2 separate regions of the Homo sapiens genome follow, and region 1 is linked to region 2. The links come from fine-mapping of genetic effects on gene expression. Tissue or cell type: whole blood. Region 2 holds a variant in brackets; the other region holds the start of a gene. All regions are shown on one strand. Distances are between the middles of the regions.

Region 1 (8,000 bases), 100 kb before region 2:
CAGGAAGGACTGCGGAGTGCCCTTGGGCCAATTGCTTCCCCTCTCTGATTCCTGCCCCTGCCTTCCCAACACAGGGTTGAAAAAGCACCTGTGTGATGTGTCATGTGCTTCATAGAAGCCAGGGAGGCTGGTGAGGGTAGTGGTTAAACACAGGCTTGGGCATCAGTAAGACTTGGGTTCAAATCTCAGCTCCTTCCCGCCTCCCCACCCTCCAATTTTTTTTTTTTTTTTTTTTTTTTTAAGAGATGGAGTCTCGCTCTGTCACCCAGGCTGGAGTGCAGTGGCGCGATCTCAGCTCACTGTAACCTCTGCCTCCCTGATTCAAGTGATTCTCCTGCCTCAGCTTCCCAAGTAGCTGGGACTACAGGTGTGCGCCACCACCCCTAGCTAATTTTTGTATTTTTAGTAGAGACAGGGTTTCACTATATGTTGGCCAGGCTGGTCTCGAACTCCTGACCTCTAGTGATCTGCCCGCCTTGGCCTCCCAAAGTGTTGGGATTACAGGCGTGAGCCACTGTGACTGGCCCCCAGATCCTCCCCTTAGATGCTGATTTGCTGATTGATGCCTACTCCTCGCAGCCTCAGTTTCATCATCTGTAATGTAGGGCCATCATACCATACCCAGAGCTTGGTCATAAAGATTAAATAAAATATAATAATAGCAAAAATTTCCATAGCCCTTGTTATAAACTGAGCACTGCTCTACAATTTTCATATATTAAGTCATTTAATCTTCCCAATGACCCTTTGGGATCATCAGTCCCACTTTACAGATGAGGAAACTGAGATCTCAGAGCTGGGTTAACATGCACATGATTAGACAGCTAATAAGTGGTGGCATCAGGATTCGAACCTGGGTAGATGAGGCTGCTAGGACATGCTAAACACATCATGTGAAATACTAAGAATGGGCTGGGCGTGGTGGCACATGCCTCTAATCCCAGCACTTTGGGAGGCCAAGGCTGGAGGATCACTTGAGGTCAGGAGTTCGAGACCAGCCTGGCCAACATGGTGAAACCCCTTCTCTACTAAAAATACAAAAAATTCACGGGGCATGGTGGCAGGTACCTGTAATCCCAGCTACCTGGGAGACTGAGGCAGGAGAGTTGCTTGAACCCGGGAGGCGGAGGTTGCAGTGACCGAAGATCACTCCATTGCACTCCAGCCTGGGTGACAAGAGAGAAACTCCATCTTAAAAAACAAAAAACAAAAAAACATACTAAGGACGGGCCTGACTCTTAAGCACTGGATTGTTATTATTCTTAGGCCTCCCTCTCAATGCTCCGAGTAGCAACTGAAGCTCATGTTCAGCAGACACAGACACAGATGTTTATTCCAGGAAGAGGTCTAAGAAACGAGCTTCTTAGAGCATGTGTCACGGGGCAGCCAGTCCTGGGGCTCTCAGAGCCAGCCCCCTCCCTTCAGCAGCTGAAGCAATAGCGCCCCCATTTTACAGGCGGAGCATGGAAGCCAGAGAGGTGGGTGGGGGAGGGGGTCCTTCCCTGGCTCAGGCAGATGGGAAGATGAGGAAGCCGCTGAAGACGCTGTCGGCCTCAGAGCCCTGGTAAATGTGACCCTTTTTGGGGTCTTTTTCAACCCAGACCTGGTCACCCTGCTGCAGCTGAAGCACCATGCCCCCTGACACCACCTGGAAGAGCCCCTTGTTGGTGGTGTCACAGAAGCCCAGGGAGCGTCGGACCTGGCCCCTTGAGGAGGAGACGATGGACAGGCAGATTTCCCACTGGGACAGCACCTGGAAGGTGAAGTAGTAGTAGCCGGGTACAGTGCAGACGAATCGGCCGGAGTGGTTCTGGTACGGTTCTTCCTGGTTGGTGATGACCGTGTCGAAGATGACCACGTTGCCCCCCATTGGGGGGTTCCGCCGAATGGCGGAGAAGGCTGGCCTCGGCTGGTCCTTGATGTTTCCTGGGCTGCCCTTGGTGCCTTTAATTCCCGGGATGCCACGGGCTCCGAGGGGGCCGCTGGGCCCTGGGTAGCCCACCTTGCCGGGGTTTCCAGAGGGCCCAGGTTCCCCCTGGTCTCCTTTAAGGCCTTGGATGCCTGTCCGGATGCCAGGGGCCCCTGTGGGGAGAAATGCCAGATTGGAAGTGAGAGTCCAATGCCTACTGGTCCTCAGGGAGAGAGCTGGACCCCCTGAGTCTATGGGATAAAGGGCAATGAAGCACCTGGGCCTTCAGGACATCGATTCTGATTGGCTGTGTGACTTTGGGCAAGTGTCTCAACCTCTCTGAGCCTCCACTTCATCTGTAAAGTGGAGAGAAGTGTGAACAGGCACTTGGGAAAGTGTCAGGTTCTGGGAAATGCATGGAACTCTGGCTGCTCTGCTGTGTTCCTGCCCAAGGCTGAGGACTTCATACCCCTCTGGGGCACTGACCTTGACTTGGCTTCAGGTTCAGGTACCACATGTAGGATGCCCGGATGCAAATTACTGCAAATGTCTATGTGATCCTTCTGGTCTGCTTTGGACTAGGAGGCCCAGGGTGATTCCATGAGACTCCCTTTCTACTTTGGTCAGGACCTCTTCCCTTTTCCATTACCCCTGGCCTTTCTTCTAGAATGTGAGTCTCTGAAGCCTGAAGGGGCTGGGGAGGGGGAAGCAGGGACAGTGTTGGGGGTGCTGGAAGGAAGTGAAGGGACAGATTCAGTTATTTGATCCCTCTCTATGTGCCAGGCAGTGTTATTTTTCCATTTTACAGATGAGCCCACTTAGGCTCAGAGAGGGCCAATAACTTGCTTGAGGTCACACAGCAAGGCAGTGGCTCCTGAGTCTAAACTCTGAGTCCTCGTTTTTCTGGCAAGAGAAACATGAACAAGGACTCAGCATTGCTGCCAGAACTTTCACTTTCACTGGTCAAAGCAAGTCATTCTCCAGAGGGGGAAGGTGAAGCCGAAGAAAGAGGGCCCAGGCAGTACACAGGGAGTGGAGAGGCCTGAGGACATGGCCCGAGAAGGCTAGGCCTCCCTTAGCCCCTGTGGCCAAGTACAAACTGGAGAGGATTCATGGGGCACTGGGGGCAGACGGACTCCTGATTCTCAGTGCCACCCCAAGCCTTCACCCTGGAGGCCAAGTCAGGCCAAGGTCCAAGGGGCTGGGTCCCGAGGAAGGGTGCTTACCCGGCTCCCCTTGCTCCCCCTTGAGGCCTGGCCGCCCCCGTCTGCCAGGTCTTCCTGCCTCCCCTTTCTTCCCGTCTGGTGCTCGGCACAAGTCCTCGGTCACCATAGAGGCCAGCGATATGGCCAGCACACAGAGCACCAGCCATCCCCGGGGACCCTCCATGATGCCTCTGTGGAGACACGGGAGGGCCTGGGCAGGTTGGACATCACACTCACACCCAGCTCCCACCCTTGAGTCCCATGCACACAATGATATATGCACAGTCCTCCCCAAGTGCACATGCACCCTCTGGGGCTCTCAATGTCCACTCTCAATCCAGCCCCAGGACCCCACGCATATACACAGAACCACAAACTCACACACATCCACACATGCAACAGAGCACACCCACATCTTCACACACTCACACAAACACAGCTCTCATCCACGCACCTACAAAACACAGTAGGCAAACTCAGAAATCCACTATACCCCCCTAGACACACAACTGATACCCAAATAGACCCTGTCCCTCACTTGCACGGACACACACATTCATACACTCCCACAGGTAATCGATTTCATTGAACAAATATGTATTGAGCGCCTGCTCCTTATTTAATTAACACTGGCTCACCCAGATGGTGGAGCTCTGCATACACACAGGAATTCACAAACGCCCAAAGCGACACCTGCTCACTCTTCTGCATGCTCAGCGCCTTTCAGCATCCACCTGAGCATGGGTGACTGGCTGCCCCTACAGTCCCCTCTGCTGGGTCCCACTGCCAGCTCTAGCACCCCAGGCTTTTCCTGGTTTCTTATGTGTTATGGGGCCAGGACCCAGGAACCCTGGTCTTACCCTTCAGTTGTTAGGTCTAACTCATCGCCTCTCACCCTCCCCCAAGCCCTGGCTCAAGGAGTTAAGGTCCCTCCACTCACCCATTCTGGGTCCTGGATCAGTGCTGCACCCCCATCCCTGTCCTAGAATCAGGCACAGTTATTTCCCTCCCTCCCTGCCTCAGCTGCCCAGCCTCCTGGGCCAGCTCCCCTGGGTCCCAGAACTCTGCAGCCCCCTCCCTCTGGGACTCTGGCCTCACCTGCCTCCTGTTGTCAACTCCAACTGGATGCTCCTGCCCTCCGCCCAGGGACCCTGTGGGCTGCCCAGCAGGAGTGGCTCCAGGCTGTGGCCAAGTTTCACATCCCTTCCTACTTCCCCTTCTTCAGACCTGCCCCCTGAACTTCCCCAGTGGCCAGAAGCTCACCAGGGACATTTCAAGCAGACTTCAGCAAGACTGGGACATTGGGCGTCCTGCCCCAGCAACAGCTGGTGTGGGAGTGGGGGCAGTGAGGCCAGTGCCTGTGAGGATGTGGGGTGGAGGCCGTGCAGGGTGAGGTTCTGAGAACCAGCGAAGCACAGAACACCAGAGCGGAAGGAATCTTTAAAAAAATCTGTCCCTTGTAGGACTTTTCATGATTATGAAAGTGACATGCAATTCATTGCCAAAAGCTTGGAAAATACAAAGAAGAAAGAACAGTGCATTGGTGAGAAGGAAGCACAGCAATCTGTTTCTAGACTTGCTGCTTCCTAGTTGCATGTCTTTGGGAAATTACTTGACCTCCTGAGCCCTCAGTTTTATCTGTACACTGGGAACGGGGTCCTATATCATCTGATTATTATAACATTTTAATGACTTGCACATACAAAACACTTGGCACATGGTGAACACTTAGTCACTAGCTTTTGCCAACATTTAAAAAAACAGCAAGTCTAGGTGCTTTGGCTCACGCCTGTAATCCCAGCATTTTGGGAGGTCAAGGCAGGCGGATCACTTGAGGTCAGGAGTTCGAGACCAGCCTGGCCAACATGGTGAAACTCCATCTCTACTAAAAATTTAAAAAATAGCCAGGTGTGGTAGCATGCACCTGTGTAGTCCCAGCTATTTGGGAGGCTGAGCTGGGAGGATTGCTAGAGCCCAGGAGGTTGAGGCTGCAGTGAGCTTTGATCTTACCACTGCACTCCTGCCTGGGAGACAGAACAAGACCCCATCTCAAAAAAAAAAAAAAAAAAAAGAGATGGCAATGGCGGGCCGTCTGGAATGGCTGCTGTCATCACACTGGCTGCAGCAGGGAGGCACGGCCAGGGCTGCATGCTCCATGTAGCCAGTGGGAGCTGGGGACAGTGGGAACCCCGCCCTCCTGGGAACCACTGCAGCTGCCAAACCACAGCTGATCCTGCTTCATGGAGCAGGTGGGGGCCCCCGCCATCCCCCATGCAGCTGCAGCTGCCTAAACTGCAGCTGTGGACCCAGGCATCCCTGCAATCTTGGGGGCCCGGGAAGGCCCCCCGCCCCACCCTTCAGGCTCAGAAGTGTCTGCTCCCACTGCCTGGCTTCTCCCTCCTCTTGGCGCCCACTCTGATCTTAGAGCAAAGTTGGTGCTGAGCCTGGGTGCTGTCGCAGCCTGGCTGGGTGTGGGCATGCTTGGGGCAGTGCTGACACACTAGACCCCTGCTGCCTTGGCCCCCTCTGGACTTTGGGCACTGACTAGCATGGAAGGAAAGCCAAGGGGAAACTGAGGGCAGCTCGGCACTGGCCTGCAGACGCTCCTTGGCATGAACAGCCTGGGCACCATGAACAGCAGCAGGAGACAGACAGGCTCCTGGGTGGAAGGGGATGGGTCCCTGGTGAGGCCCTACCTTCAAGCCAGGGAGGGCCTCAAGGCTGGGGGCCAGGCTGCCAGTCCCACACACCAGAGTGGGAACTTATGGTGTATTTTCTGGGCTTGCCTATAGCCACCCATGGACCAATCAGTATGCACTTCCTCCTCTCTGAGGCTCATGAAAGCTTCAGGCTCAGCCAGAGCTGGGCAGACATTGGATGACCAGCTGCCGAGAGGAGCTACCCGCTCCAGGGCCTCCTCTCTGCTGAGAGCTGCAGAGATGGCAGAACAACTTGCCTGCAGAAAGGAGCTTCCCATTCCAGGGTCTTCCCTCTTCTGAGAGCTGGAAAGTCGACAGGATGACCTGCCTGCAGAGAGGAGCTTCCCATTCCAGGGTCTCCTCTCTGCTAGCAGCTGAACACTCATCAGGACACCCTGGCTGTGGAAAGGAGCTGCCCCCTGAGGGAGGCTCTGCAGGAGGCTGAGCTGTTCTATCGCTCAGTAAAGCTCCTCTTCGTCTTGCTCACTCCCCACTTGTCTGCATACCTCATTCTTCCTGGTTGCAGGATAAGAACTTGGGACCCATCAAATGGTGGGGCTGAAAGAGCTGTAACACAAACAAGGCTGAAACATGCCCCTTGCTTGCCATGATGCAGGTGAAGGGAAGGAAAGAAGAGCTGCGGCCCTCTGGGGAACCCAGACCTGGGAGCTCCCCAAGCTGGAGCTGTGACTCCCTTTTCGGGGCCCTGTGGTTCCTGGCATCTCGAAGCTTCTGGGTGCCACCGTGTTCCCCGGTGCCAGCTGTGGAAGCTGCTTGTGGTGTACTTGGTCTAGCCACAACCTCTCAGAGAGCTGGCGCCCATGCTGGCACCTGGAGCTGCTCACCCCGCTGCAGCAGCCGGCATGTCTGACTGTGTGCAGTGGCCAGACCCCATGTTCACTCACACACCCTTCACTGTTCCATGCCTGACTTGCCCTGGGCAGATGTGGAACCCAGGCTGGTAATGTGAGCTGAGTGCTGCCTGCCAGGAGGAGTGAGTGAAACAAGCCCAGTGGGCCTGAGCAAAACTTGGGCAAAGGTGCCACCAGCCACAGAGGTTTCCGGCCAGAAAATGACACCCCAAAGATCCTGTAACACCATCTCAAAAAAAAACAAAAAACAAAACCCAGCAACAAAAGCCTGTGAATTCTACCATCTAGAGACAATTGCTGCTAGTGTTTGAACAGATCATCTAGCCTTACTCACCTTAACTGATGGGATGCTCATTACCTGTCAGCACGGCACACTGCATCATTGTCAGCTTGGACCCTGAGAATGCTTTTCTTTAGATAGAGAGGCTCTGTCTCTCCCAGACTGGAGACCAATGTGTTCAGGCCTGGGCTGACCACATCTGTCTGCTTCTTCTCATGAGCATGTTTTTGTTTGTTTGTTTGTTTTCTGAAAATTTTGCCAGAGGCAGGAGGAGGAAAAGAGGAGGAGGAGGGAGGAGATAAGGGAAGGCTGTTGAAGTGGGCAGATGAAGGATGGTCTAGAGCCAGGGTTTTTGAGCTTTGGGGACTTCTTTTTCATTTGCAATCTTGTGTGGCATCTGATGTATGTCAAACAGATAAAAATGGGGATACTGGCTTGAAGGGTGGGGGCCCAGAGCTCCCCCTGACAGCCCCTCCCATGCTCCCTGGATTCAGAAAGTTCGTGGAGCTGGAATCTCATCTGCTCAGCCCATACCTAACTCACAGTGTGACCCTGGGCAAGTTATCTCATCTTTCTGAACCCCACTTTCTCCATCTACCAAGATGAGGGAGTGGGTGGGAGGTGGGAAGGCTGCCCCAAATGGCCTCTAACATCCCTTCCAGTCTCCTCCTCCTCCTCCTCCTTCTTCTTCTTTTGAGACAGAGTCTCATTTTTTTGCCCAGGTGGGAGTGTAGTGGCTGGATCTCAGCTCACTGCAACCTCTGCCTCCTGGGTTCAAGAGATTCTCCTGCCTCAGCCTTCCAAGTAGCTGGGATTACAGGCACGCATGCACCACCATGCCCAGCTAATTTTTGTATTTTTAGTAGAGACGGGGTTTTGCCATGTTGCCCAGGCTGGTCTCAAACTCCTGACCTCAGGTGATCTGTCCATCTCGGCCTCCCAAAGTGCTGGGATTACAGGCGTGAGCCACCGCGCCCAGCCCAGTATCCATCTTCTTCTTCTTCTTCTTCTTCTTTTTTTTTTTTTTTTTTTGAG
Region 2 (8,260 bases):
GAGGGGCAGAAGCTGGAGGAGGAGGGTAGAGAATTTGTAACCAGACTGTGGGCCTGTGGAGGGGAGAGGCCACGTCTTACTCCTTCCTGTATTTGGTACTGTGCCTGACATAGGTGGGATGAGCAGGGCGTATTGGATGAATGGATGGACAGATTGACCAAGAAGAGGCACATTGTGACACCTGGTCTCTGCCCCACGCCGAGGAAAGAGTGAGTCTGAGCTGCAGCTCTGGTGATGCCAGGTGCCAGCCTGGACCCAGAAAACGAAAGAGGAACAGTGGATAGGGTGACCTTACCACATGAGTCCAGACTCGCATCTCTCTACCTGGACGTGCAGTAGGCTCTCGAGCTCAGCCCGCATCCCCCGTGTGCTCTGCCTGTCTTCCCTGCCTTCTTGAGGTTGTCCCCAGCATAGCACCTGGCAACTTCATGCTTCCACTTTCAGACCAAAAATCTTGGGAATCATCCTTGAACCTCTTTTTCCTTAAATCCCACATCTAGTCCATCCGGGGACCCGGTGGGCGCCACTTGATCACTCCTCACCGTCACCCGTGTCCACATCATCATTTTCCTTGCTTGGCTAACAAAGGAGCCACTCAGAAATATTTTCTGGCTGTGGCTTCATTTTCATTTTTATGAAATTCTGCTGCGATGAGATATTGCAATGGCCCCTTAAGTAACCTCCCAGCACCACCCCCCAACTCCCCACCTTATATTTATTCTCTGCACAGCAGCTGCAGCACCTCTGCTCAAAACCCTTCACTGGCCACAGCCTTAAAATGACCTAGAAGGCCCTGCATACTCTGGGCCCTGACCACTTTCTCGCTTTCTCTCTTACTACCCTCTCCCATGCCCACTCTGCTCCAGCCACCCTGGCCTCCCAGGCATCCTCAAGCAGGCCGTGCATGTTCCTGCCTCCAGGCCTTTGCACTGGCTGTCCCTCTGCCAGGAACATCCTTCCCTAGACATTCACACGGCCACTCCCTCAAAGCCAGCGGGTCTTTGCTCAAGTCATTGAATCAGCGAGGCCTTTCCTGGCCACCCTGGAATTGCAACATTGCCTGGTACTTCCTGTCTGCCCCCTGCCCCCCAGTTTAATTTTTCTCCCTGGGGCTCACCATTATCTAGCAGACTATATATGTAGTCACTGTCTTGACTCAACTGTGAGCTCCATAAAGGCAGGGACTGCAGTCTGTTCTGTTCACTGTGGGGTCTCCACATCTACAATGCTGTCTGCCCATCATAAGGGAATGAATGAATTCTAGGAGTTTTGGAGCTGGGTGAGGCAGGGGACTGTGCCTGTCTCAGGAAGTCTCAGGCATGGTGGTAGCATTCTTTGCCTCTTCATTTGCTCTTTTTGCTCAGTCACTAGTCACAAGGCCCTGTGGAGGATTAAGACGTGAACATATGCTGGGTGCGGTGGCTCACATCTGTAATCCCAGCACTTTGGAAGGCCAAAGCAGGAGGATCACTTGAGCTCAGTAGTTCGAGACCAGTCTGGGCAACATAGTGCGACCCCGTCTCTACTAAAAATAATAATTAAAAAAAAATTAGCCGAGAGTGGTGGCCCCACCTGTGGTCCCAGCTGCACAGGAAGCTGAGGTATAAGGATCACTTGAGCCTGGGAGATTGGGGCTGCAGCGAGCCACGATGGCGCCGCTGCACTCCAGCTTGGGCGACAGAGACCGTGTCTCAAAAAAAAAAAAAAAAAAAGACACGAACACAGACAAATACTGTATGATTCTACTTCTATGATACACCTAGACCGCTTAATTTCCTAGAGACCGGGTAGAATGGTGGTTGCTGTGGTGGGGTGGGGGGTCGGGGTGGTTCAGGGAGAGGAGAACAGGAAGTGACTGACAACAGATACGAGGCTTCTTTCTGGGGCAAAGAGAATGTTTGATGGATACAGAGCTTCAGTATGAAATGATGAAAAAGTTCTGGAGACAGGTGGTAATGGTGGTTGCACCAGTAAGAATGTACTTAATGCTACTAAACATGACACTTAAAAATGGTTAAAAAGGTAGACTTTGTTACATATATTCTATCAGAAAAAAGTAATAAAAAGACATGAACACACATGACCACATGCTCAATACTATGGGTTGTACAAAGTATGGGAGGAGTCCAGGGAAGGAGTTCCCTGGCTGAGGTCACAGAGGCCACTTTCTGCAGTGGGAGACATTTGGGCTGCGCTTGCAGGACTGGGGGGAAGCTGGGTGGGAAAGGCTGGCAGAGGGTGTGGGTTGGTGGATGGGGAGGAGGATGGCCCTGAGTGTGTGTGCTTGGCTGGGGGTACTCACAGTTCCATGTTGGGAACCTCGAGGCTCTGTGCCCCCTGCCCCCCTGGCAGTCTAGGTCCAGGTCCCCAGGAAGGCCTGTGAGAAAGGTTCTGACCAGAAGATGGGAGTGACCCATGGTGTCCAGGGGATCCTATCCTCAGGGCTCCTGAGTGGTCAGATGAGGAAGCCCTCCCCAAACCTGGGGTTCTGGTCTTGTTCACTCGGCCAGCCAGGCGTAACCCGAGAGACTTGGACTCCAGCATCCCCAGACCTCAGGCCCTGGTTCTCCCAGTTGGCGCCGAGGTCACAGCCTTCCCGAGGTCAGCAGTGGGGATCGCAGCAGACTCACTCCTCTCTGTTGCCTCACGGACACCAGAGGCCAGAGCACCCAGCACAGACTTCTCCTGCAACAGCTGGGTCAGGCCCCAGGAAACTAATAACCACTACTGAGCCCACTCTGGCTGGCATCACACAGGGGCCTTCCTGGGTATTACATTCTACCCCCTACCCTCCCCATTTCACAGAAGATGCAAATAAGGCTCAGAGAGCTTAAATGGCGTGCTCAGTCACAGTGCCGGGCAGCAACAGTGTTGACATTTGACCATCTGACTCCATATCCCTGACTGTCAGCCTGGGGGCTATCCTGGACTCTAGGCTTGCTTCAGACCAGGGCTGGCAGGGATGGCTGAGCCACTGTCCTCGTGCCCTGCTCCTCTCTTGAGCCATGCCCTCCCCTCAGCTCTGGGAAACCTCCCTCTTCCAGGACTAAATGCTTCTGTTACCTGTCCCTTCCAGATCCTCCCAGCTGTGCCACTGGTGGGCACAGCCCCCAAGGCCCACACCCACTAAGGTGAGGGGGCAAGGCTGCCCTGCAGTGAAAGCTGCCACAGGAGGCTCTTTGGTGCTGTTCTCAGCACTGGTGCCACCATCTTGGCCCGAAGAGGGCATGTTTCTCCTCCCAGTTGAGGACAGAGACTTCTTCCAACATCTCTTCCTTGTTCCTTGAGATGGGGCCATGGGGTATCGCTGGGTCTTGTGCATGCAGCACAAAAGCGTTATCAGGACCTTCACTGAGCACGCGCCCCATGGCAGCCCCATGCCAGGCTCTTCTTGTGCCAGATCTTGCTGGGCGCTCCCACTCCACAGGAATGGCATCCTTACAGATGAGAAGCCCAAGGCTCAGAGGTAAGTCACACACCGTGAAAGTGGCAGTCCGAGCCAGAACCCTGGTTTCTCTACTTCCCATGCTACCCAAGGAATCAGAAACGTTGGAGGAGGGCTCGTGGAGGTTATCTAATCCACTTGCGGGGGTGGGGCTGAAAAGACTCGACCAAGGTCACACAGCTCATGAGTGACAATGAATTGCGTCTTCTCATGACTTGCATTGTAAGTGTGCTGGAACTAACACATCTTGTTCCATGATGAAACAAAAATCGTATTTAAGATTACATATGCTTTTAAAAAAAGCATTTACTTGAGGCAAGTGCTTTCTAGAATAGTTGTGAGAAAGCTGCAAACACACAGGCGAGGCTGCCCCCCAGGAGTGGCGTGCCTGGCCCTCTGCCCACTCTCTGGGAGCAGTGGCTGTGCCCAGACAGCATGCTCAGTACAATGCTGTCTTCTCAAAGATAGGGGCCAGCGAAGTGTGTGATGGGAAGTGGGAGGGCTTCCTGGCTGCCTCTGTGGCACTTTCTAATTTCGCTTTAGCTCTGGTCTGGAGCTGGTGAGAAAAAGGAACAAAAATAGGGTA[T/C]TTTGTATTTATGCCAATGTGACCCTTCCAGTAAAAGCTGGTGACCTTGGGCAAGTTTCTCAATCTTTTTGAGCCTCTATTGACTCCGGGAAATGGGGTCACAGTAGTGTTATTGTAGATTCAGTATCAGGCTCAGTCCTGATGGAGGTAGAGCCCCGGCGCCCAGCCTGGGGGTGACGGGTGGTCAATATAACAGCATCAACGCTGACGAGGATGAAGATGCAGGAGGGTACAGCGGTGATGTGGCTGTCCGAGCGCACAGCCAGGGAGTGAGGGGCAGCCTTCACAAATGAAATGAAGCCTTCTGAACCTCACAGCCAATGTCCACCACTCGTGCGCATCTCCCTCCCGACACTGGGCGCCAACGGAAATGCCACAGGCTTTGCAATCTCACAGATCTGGACTTGAATCTGGACTCAGCCACTTCCTGTGTGACCCTCAACCCCCTGAGCCTTCATCCAGTTCTACGCTGTCCAATAACAGCAGCCACGAAGCTACATGGGACTATTTAAATTAAAACTATGGTTCCTCAGGTGCACTAGACACATTTCAAGTGCCCCACAGTCACACATGACTAGTGGCTCCCACACTGGACAGTGCAGAATGGACCACTGTCGCCATCACAGAGAGTCCTACCGGCCAGTGACTGTGGGTGTGGCACCTGCGTTGGGGATGAGGTACACACGCTCTGGCCCAGAGCAGAAGTCAACAAATGGCGGCTCTCACCCATCCCTGCTGCTAGGACTTGGACTTGAGTCTCCTCACTTGCCTGGCCTAAGAGGCACTTCTCCTTGCCAAGTGGATGTAATGCTGGGTCCAGCTGTTCTCACTGCAGTTCTGCTACTGACTCACCATGTGATGGAACAACCAACTGTCCTGAAACCTCGATTTCTTCATCTGCAAAATAATCATCTGCGCCCCTCCAGCCTCAGAGCACTGCTGCCAGAACCAAGCATGTAAATGACTGAAAGTGCTGTGAAACACAGGGAGGTGTAACAGGCAACACAGCGAGGTGGAGAAAATCCTGCGTTCTGTGTCAAAAACCTGGACTCCAATTCCACCTCTCACTAGCGGAGGAGCCTTGCGTCTAAGGCTGAGGTCTTGTACTGTCTGAATCCCTTTACTGTAAAAAGAGGTAACAATAAAGATACCTAAACTTTCATGTGACTGTAAGGATCAAAAGAAATAATGTATATGAAAGTATCTAAAAATAGCAGAGTGTGATTCCAGAATAAGGCATTATGGGACTACCATTATCCATGCAAAAGGGAGGGCAGGCCAGGGGGGTCACGCATCTGCCGCCTCCTCTCTTTCCGTGCTCCACCTGCCCCACAGCCCTACTCCTACCAGGTGAGGCCTCTGCTGCTCCAAGTCAACTGACCGCTGGTTGGGACAGAAATGGGGACACCATATGGGTAAGACGACCCACTCCTCAGCCATAAAAAAGAATGAGATCATGTCGTTTGCAGGGACATGGATGGAGCTGGAGACCATCATCCTTAGCAAACTAACACAGGAACAGAAAACCAAATAAATACCACATGTTCTCACTTGTTAGTGGGAGCTAAATGATGAGAGCACATGGACACATAGAGGGTACAACACACACTGGGGCCTTTTGGAGGGTGCAGGGTGGGAGGAGGGAGAGGATCAGGAAAAATAACTCATAGGTACTAGGGCTTAATGCCTGGGTGATGAAATAATCTGTACAACCCATTTCTGTGACATGAGTTTACCTATGTAACAAACCTACACTTGGATCCCTGAACTTAAAGTTAAAAAACAAAAGACAACCCATTCTGCTGATGCCAGACCAAGAAACCAACTCCACTGGGGCCACATGGCCCAAGCCGTTGGGAAGCATGAGGTCCAGGAAGCCCCCTGCATTGACTATGCGCCCCCTGCATTGACTGTGTGCCCCCTGGGCTGGAGGGGCTTGTTCCAGGCAGGCTCCACAGTGCCACTGCAGCAGTGGGAGGAGCGCAGGTCTCAGGTCTCCGAAGAGCCCAGACCTACTCCCGATTCTGCTGCTTACCTGCTTATACGAGACATGTCTCCTCAGTGCCAGGATCTCTGGCTGTCCTGCATCTCAAGGAAGAGCCCCAAGTGAGCTGTCAAGTGTCAACTGAGGACCGGTGAGACTGAAGAGCATGGGGTCCAAAAAAGTGACAGGACCCAGGCCACTGATCCCACGCAAGGCAAAGGACATGACCCTTTGCTCCTGGACACATTTCTGGCTGATAAAAGCAGTTTTAGGCCTGCCTGGCTGTCTCAGGCAGGATGGACAGAGGGGACGGGAAAGGAGAGAAAGCAGGTGGAGAGTCCTTGGCTCTATGACAACAGTCCAGGTGTGACAGCAAGGCTGCTTAAGGCATAGGAAGTGGGGATAAGCCACATTTTCTGGCTGATTAGGTATTAAACAAGAAATGCTTAAAAATAGCAAGCGATTTAAGAGCAGACTCTGGAGTCAGACAGCTGGGTTTGGACCCCAGCTATGCTGCTCTCTAGCTACATAGCGACTTCACCTCTCTGGTGTTGGTTTCCTCATCTGTAATGCAGGGATAATAATAGCACCTACATTGTGGAGTTGGTGCTAGAATTCTAAGAAATAAGAATTACTGGGCTGGGCACTGTGGCTCATGCCTGTAATCCCAGCACTTCGGGAGGCCGAGGCAAGTGGATCACCTGAAGTCAGGAATTCAAGACCAGCCTGGCCACCAAGGTGAAACACTGTTTCTACTAAAAATACAAAAACTAGCCAGGTGTGGTGGTGCACACCTGTAATCCCAGCGACCTGGGAGGCTTAGGCAGGAGAATGGTTTGAATCTGGGAGGTGGAGGTTGCAGTGAGCTGAGATCGTGCCACTGCACTCCATCCAACCTGGGCAACAGAGTGAGACTCTGTCTCAAAAAAACAAAAAATTACAAAAAGCTCTTCATCCAGTGTCTAATGTGTGGTAAGCATGTAATAACACCAATTATTAATTAGGATATTTCTTTTTTTTTTTTTTTTTGAGATGGAGTCTCGCTCTGTCTTCTCCAGGCTGGAGCGCAGTGGCGTGATCTCAGCCCACTGTAGCCTCCGCCTCCTGGGTTCAAGTGATTCTCCTGACTCAGCCTCCCAAGTAGCTAAGACTACAGGCATGCACACCACGTCCGGTTAATTTTATATTTTTAGTAGAGATGGGGTTTCACCATGTTGTCCAGGCTGGTCTCGAACTCCTGACCTCAGATGATCCACCTGCCTCGGCTTCCCAAAGTGCTGGGATTATAGGCATGAGCCATCGCGCCTGGCCTATTTCTAAAAAATATTAATCCTCCCCTTCCTTCCCCTACCCATGAAAAAGACCAACCAATCAACCAACTAACCAAAACCCCCACAGAATTTGTAGGCGCTGGGATCTTTAGATCTTGAGTCTGGACAGACATGGGTGTTTTGGTATCTGTTTCTCATTCATATATAATCCTTACCTGGCTGATGAGTCCTGTAGGAGCGGGAGCCAGGCACCATTTTAGCCCGGTAACAGGACCTCACCGAGTCCCAGAACTTCAGGTCTAACATACCTGTGCAATCAGGCACCTGATGTGCCAGGCTAACTGCTGGGTACACACATGTGCATGTAAGAGAGAGAACGAGGATAATGCACAGTCCTTGCCCTTGAAGGGGTCGCAGTTTAGCGGGGGAGGATCTTAAGTCATCCTGTGACAATCTAATAATCCCATGCTCCCAAACCCACATGTGCTCTTGACATCTCTCTCACCCCCACATACTCATACGTGCACACACAGCTCCCGTCTCCTCAGCTCCAGCTCTGCCTTTCTGGAAATGCTGGCTTGGTGTGGACCCTGTGTGGAGCACAGGGGTTTCAACCTTAAACAAAATGAAAAGCTGTTTGGTCCTGTGCCAGCCCCACAGGCCCCCTTCCCCGCCCCCTGCCCATTTTTATCAGACCCTCCTGATGGCAGGGCTGTGAAATCTCCCCTGGAGGGGACCGTGGGTCCCTGGACTGACCTTGTCCTGATGTGTTTGATCAGCTGTTTCTGGCCTGCGCCGGGGGAGCCAGAGCTAGAAGAAGCGGCAGGAATGGTGTTTGATCAGAGCAGCTGGGAGTGGTGGGGCCTGGCTGGCTGCTCTTAGCCTTCTGCTAATCTCTCCTCAGAGGACAAAGAGAGGAGGATGTTCTGACAGACCAGCCCACGGGTAACTTGGGGTACAGCCTCAATGACCAG

The links. PIP is the estimated chance that this variant, and not a neighbour inherited with it, causes the effect.
Region 1: C1QA starts here. The variant in region 2 is fine-mapped to the expression of C1QA in whole blood (TOPMed, PIP 0.98).

The regions. Positions count from the first base shown.
Region 1 is chr1:22,632,915-22,640,914 of GRCh38, reverse strand. C1QA (complement C1q A chain) reads right to left here and starts at 4,287. Exons shown (of 3, transcript NM_015991.4): 1 at 4,213-4,287; 2 at 3,136-3,305; 3 at 1,237-2,082. The coding sequence starts at 3,298. The coding sequence ends at 1,508. It overlaps MIR6127 (microRNA 6127), which reads left to right and starts at 7,549; the gene lies at 7,549-7,657.
Region 2 is chr1:22,533,272-22,541,531 of GRCh38, reverse strand. No RefSeq gene overlaps it. Among named protein-coding and RNA genes, the nearest start is that of EPHA8, 26 kb to the left of the region's middle. The variant T/C (reference allele first, on the strand shown) is at 4,032.